Regions from separate parts of the Homo sapiens genome. Here region 1 is linked to region 2. The links come from fine-mapping of genetic effects on gene expression. A gene starts in region 2. The other region holds a variant in brackets. All regions are shown on one strand. Distances are from middle to middle.

Evidence for each region. PIP is the estimated chance that this variant, and not a neighbour inherited with it, causes the effect.
Region 1: its variant is fine-mapped to the expression of KLHDC7A in whole blood (TOPMed, PIP above 0.99).

The regions. Positions count from the first base shown.
Region 1 is chr1:18,444,844-18,447,749 of GRCh38, reverse strand. No RefSeq gene overlaps it. Among named protein-coding and RNA genes, the nearest start is that of KLHDC7A, 35 kb to the left of the region's middle. The variant A/G (reference allele first, on the strand shown) is at 1,273.
Region 2 is chr1:18,479,702-18,482,607 of GRCh38, reverse strand. KLHDC7A (kelch domain containing 7A) reads right to left here and starts at 1,678. Exons shown (of 1, transcript NM_152375.3): 1 at 1-1,678. The coding sequence starts at 1,626. RefSeq lists enhancers at 856-1,727, 1,728-2,600.

The DNA.
Region 1 (2,906 bases), 35 kb after region 2:
TGCGTGTGAGTGTGCATGTGTGCACGTGTATGTATGTGTGTGCATATGTGTATTGTGTGCATGCACGTGTGTGTATATGTGCTCGTGTGTGTATGTGCATGTGTGTATGTGTGTGTATATATGTATGTGTGTAATTGCATGCGTATGTGTTGGGGGTGGTGGAGAGGGGCCGCCCTTTGTTTCTTTGGAGGCTGGACTGCTGTGCAGCCAGAGGGCCTCCCGTGTCAGACAGCAGGGCAGAGGCCTGGCTGACCTGCTGACCGCTGTTGGCCTCTTCAGGGTCTGTATCTGGGGTTGCTGCACCCCAGGTCCTTGGATTCCAGCAGGCCTGGCTCCTTGCATTGACCAGCTTCAAATCTCTGATTGCATTGCTTGCAATCATTAGGTGCATCCTGGGGTCCCCCAACCCCCACCATACACACACACACACACACACACAGTGTGTGCATAGGGCAGGCAAACTCATTTCAATATTAGCTGAAGTAAAAGAGGATTAAGAAGTTAAATCTATAGTAGGGGAAAAATAAGTTTAACTGAATGCACTTCAAAGCCAAATAGAAATGACTTCTGGATCCTCGGCTGGTTTTGGATTATCTTTGCCTGGTTTCCCATTTGCCTGCATGGATTATCTGTATCTGTGAACAGTGCACATGGTTTCAGAAGGGACAGGAGTGGTGGGGCCACGGAGCCCAGGTTTTGCTTCCCTGCCAGGGTAGGGCCTGGCCTTGGTGGGGAGGGTCAGCCCCTATTGGCAGCCAAAATGTGTCTGATGGATTTGGGCGGCGGGAGGGAAATCAGGGTCCTTTGATGAAACACCAGGTGCAGCAGTAGAGGGGACTGATTGGGAGGGAGAGGCATCTGTTCTGAAAGGCAGGCTGGGGAGAAGAGAAAGCACTAATCACGGCTTGAATGCTAAACTCTGGGCTGGTGTTCACCAGGGGGCAGGGAGGGAAAGGAAGTTCTCAGAGCAGATGAAAATCCTTGTCATCACTGTTGAGAAACTACTGGTGGCCCAATGACTCAGGTGTACAGAGACTTATTGCTACTTCAGTTGTTCATTGATTTTCTTACCCATAAGTGTCTATTTATTCGTGACAGTGTGGCAGGCAATGTGTTAGGCACCTAGAACATAAGGGTAAACCAGACAGACACTGTCATCTCTGCTGCCAGGGATGAGTAAATGATTACTTTGGTGTGACAAGTGATAGCCTCTTGTCCTACACAGGATGTGTATGAGCACAGAGCAGGGCAAATAACTTTGACTTGGGAGAG[A/G]TATTCAGAGAGGGCTTCCTGGAGGAAGTGATGTGTAAACTCAGACCTAAAGGATGAGATAGATAATAATCATCATAATAGCAAACTTTTCATAAACACTTGACTACATGCCAAACAGGGTTCTAAGCATGTTACGTGCATTTTCTCATTTATTTTCCACAAAAATTCTATTATTAATTCTGCTTCTCAGATAAGAAAACTGAAGCAGGGGGAGGTGACTTGTAGGGTCATAAGCTAAGAAGTGAGGGACAATGATGAAGAGGTGAGCAATGGGGAGAGAAAGAAGAGAAGCAGGGATATAGTGTATCAAGCAGAGGGAATGGTCAGCCCATGCAAAATCACGGAGGTGAGAGAGAGGGAGCCGTGCTGGAACAGAAGGTGCAAGGAGGAGTGTGGTGAGTAGGGAGGCTGTGGTGGATCCCAGTGGGTTCTACCTTACACAGGTGGCAGTCTTAGGGAGGCAGGGGATGGGGAGTTTACTCCCAGAGATGAATCCCACGTCAGGGGACTGCAGCTTAGGAACGTAGAGGCGGGAACACCCTCAAGACTGGGTTGACTGTGGATGTTCCCTGGACCTGGGGACCAAGACCAGACCTTCAGGACTGGGGAGGATTTAAAAAAAAAAAAACCTGGGAGGATGAGGTGGAATCTTAATCCCACCCCCACTGGACCCCTCTAGTGATTCAGCATCACTGGGAAACCAGACTTGGCCATTCCCCAGCATGCCCCTTGGCCATTCCCCAGTAGGGGCACGCTGATCCAAGCAGGCTTGGAGAGCTTCGAACCTGGCCACTACAAGCCCTGGAGTCAGGGAGGTCTGGGTTCAAATCTAGATTTCCTTGCAGAAGAACTCCGAGTTTGGGCACTGTATTAGTTCATTCTTGCACTGCTATAAAGAAATAACTCAGACTGGGTAATTTATAAAAAAAAAAAAAAGAGGCTTAATTGGCTCATGGTTCTGTAGGCTTTACAGAAAGCTTGATGGCTTCTGGGGAGGCCTCGGGAAAAATTTCAATCATGGTGGAAGGTGAAGGGAAAGCCGACACGTCTTACATGGCTGGAGTAGAAGGAAGAAAGTTGCTGGGGGGTTGGGGGGCATGCTACACACTTTTAAACAACCAGATCTTGTGAGAAGTCTATCATGAGGACAGCACCAAAGGCGGAAATCCACCCCCATGATCCAAGCACCTCCCACCAGGCCCCATCCCTCAACGTTGGGGATTACAATTCGACATGAGATTTGGGCGGGGACACAGATCCAAACGATATCAGGCATATAACCCAACCTTTCTGGGCAGAGGCTCCCTCATCTGTAAAATGGGGATAATAATTTTGTAGGGCACCTTTGCGACACTCACTCCCCATTCCTTCTTCCTAAGGGGACTCCTGTCTTGCTCAAGCATTCGCCCCTCCCTGATGAAGCCATTTACATATATGGGAAGCAGGATCTATCCCCAGGGCTAGGATGGATGATCCTAGTTAGAGTCCTCAAGCATGGTCAGGATTGCCAGTGATTGGCTAGGAGTCCAGACTTAAGCCAATCGGTGTATGGCATTCCAAGTGGGTGGCCAATCGTCTTGTCTGGGGCAGGTGGTGGTGGTAGGGTCTTTTTCTCTCCTACTGGATGGGAACAG
Region 2 (2,906 bases):
GAGATAATTGAAGAGACTGCAGATGGCACAGCCCCGGGACACGGCCTCGGGGGGCATGCGAGCCAGCGGGCGCCAGACATCCTGCTCATCGTCATAGCAACAGAGGCCGCCGGAGTCTTCCTTGGGGCACACGTCAGCCACCACCAGGTACTGGCGGCCCCGGAGCCGGCGCTGCAGGATCAGCTCGCGCTCTGCCCCGCTCAGGCACCCGTAGATGTCCGGGCTGCGCAGCACCTGCAGGTAGTTTTCGCTCATCACCTTGTAGGCCGCCTCTTTCAGGGCCTCCAGGTTCTGCCTCTTGGCCAAGGTCAGCACCTCATAGCAATTGCCCAGATCCAGGCGGACCTGTGGGGCTGAAGCAGGGGTGAGCGGGATATGGAAGAAATTGGTCCCGGCCACCGGCTGCACATGGGGCTCCCGGCTGCTTCTGCCTAAGCCAGGCAGGGCGCCCGGGTCTGGGCAGGGTGGAGCGGGGAGCCGGAAGCCATCTGGCTGCAGCTGCAGCTCTGGGTTCTCCGCTATCTGCAGAAGGCTCTCCTTCCGGCTGAAGCCTCGGGTGGAGGGCCACGGCCCTGTCTGCGGGGAGGCGGCTCTTTCGGCTGCACCCTTTGTGTCACCGGCTTGGCCTCCCGAGGCAGCCCCTGTTCCCAGGGACCCTGGCGGTGGCCTAGGGGATGGAACCTCAGTCAGGGCTGCTGTCCTGGGAGCCAGCCTGCCCTGGAAGATGGCCTGAGAGGTAGATTCCACATAGTAGTCGTACACCTTGCCCTTGAGCCGGGGCTCAACCCCCTCCGCCTTCTGTATGAAATGCTCCTCCATTCGGACGCGGGCTATGGATGAGAAGGTATAGGAGGAGTTGGGGGCGCCCTCCTGCTGATGCAGGGTCAGGTCAACATCGGAGGCAGCCTCGAGAGCCCCAGCCTCTTCTCTGCTGACCCCTATCACACGGGTGAAGACCCAGCTCTGGTTCATGTCACTGCTGCCTTGCAAGGGAGCCACGTAGTGACAGTGGGGAGGTTCTAGTTGCCCCAGTCCTGGATGCTCACGGGGTTTACTGTCCTGCCATGGAGAAGGCTCACCACCGGCACAGCTGCCGTCGGCTGCTGCAATGAGTCCAGCTGGGGAGCTCTTCGGTTCGCTGCCCAAGCGGGGGAAATGGGGAGGGTCAGGGTTACTGCCAACAGCTGTTCTGGTTTCCTGGCTGGGGCAGCAAGGAGGCACCTGCTCAGAGTCCGAGCCCTGCCCGCCCCGCTCCTCACCTGAGCCTTTTCTCTGGGGCTTCCTGTCTGTGGAAGTGGCCCCCGTGACCAGGACATAGGGGCCTCTTGGATTCTCACAGCTGCAGCCCTGTGGTGCTTCAGCCCGCTTGCTGCTCCTCCGACGTCTTGGCCCCCTCAGGAGCACCCCAGGAGAAGCCTCCTGTACAGCAGGCTGCCCTGAGCCCTCTGCTTCCTCCTTGGCTTCTGCCTGGCCATTCCCACCCCACCGCTGGGCTGGGGCAGGCCTCGACTTGTACAGCCTGTAGGCCACAGTCACCAGGAGCAGGGCAGCGGCTGACAGCACCACCTTGCCGGTCAGCTGCATATCCAAATGCCAGTCCTGGGCCTCTGCTCCTCTGGGGAACATGCTTCTCCAGCCAACCTGGGGCTGAGGAATGTCAAGAATCTGATTAATAATTGCCCAGTAGGGACCAGTTCCTGGGTCCTGCTGAGCGGAGGGGAGGGAGTTCTGGGCTGGTTCTGGCTGGCCAGCCGAGGAGAGGAGAGGAGCAAAGGTGACTTTGAGCTGCAGAGGGTGGCCGCTGGGGCCCAGAGCTGGCAGATCCCAGCGGCTGGCCTCCTTCCATGCTTCCCTGGTGGCTGGGGTGGGGGGCCCGCCCAGGGGCTGAGCTTGTGATCAGCCACCTAAGCCAGCTCTGTGGTCAGCAGCTAGGGGATGTTAGGAGTATCCAGTGGGCATACAAAAGAGGAGGAAGCTCTTAACCAAACAGTCACCCGATGCCAGGAAATGCATGGGGTTGGTTATTCTTTATGTGTGTGCTTTATTTTCTCTTTTGCAAGTCCACTGGGCTCAGAGGCTTGGGTGTGGTGAGTCATGGGCAGGTGGAGCCCCAGTAGGCGTGGATGGGGTCATTCTTGTGAGGTCTGCTGGTCCTCACAGTGGGGTCAACTTTATGCTGGCCAAGCAGGGAACGGGAACATGGCAGTGGAGTCTGGAGCCAGGGCATGCAGCCAAGCCACCTGAGCCGGCCCTTGAGTGCCTCTGCCCTCCTTCCCTGCCTGACAAGTTTATTAAGAAAAACCAGCCTTTCTGAGAACAGTGGAGAAAGACATTGCATTAGTGCTCAGATCGGGGTTAGATGTGGACACATCTTCTCTTTTAAAACCAGACAATCTCCTACGGTGAAAGATTGAGGGAAGACTCACGTCTCCCAGACCCCCCCTCACCATTTCCCCTCCCCCATCACCAGTGCTGTGGGTCCTGGACCCAGACTACCTGGCTCTGCTACTTACCAACTATATGACCTTAGGCAAGAGACCTCACCGCTCTGTGCTTTGTCTGAAAAAGGAGGATGACAGCATACGCACCTCATCAGCTTGTGGGGAGAACTAAATGGGCTACTAGGAATAAACACTGGGGCAGAGCCCCCATCATGAAAGCTTAGTAAATATGAACTATTCTCTGCTTCTTCCTCCTTTTCCTCTTTCTGATCATCGGCACCATCATCGCTAGTATCAATTGTCATCAGAGGACCTTCCAAAGCACAGAACTAATTCTACCCTTCTCCTGACCAAGGTCCTCAAAGAGTCCCCAAAGTCCTGTGCAGGGGTCTCAAACTCTTGCTGCATATGGAGGCTGGGTAGGTAAAGTGAACAAGTAAGGACGTCTGTCCGCCCCACCCCAGC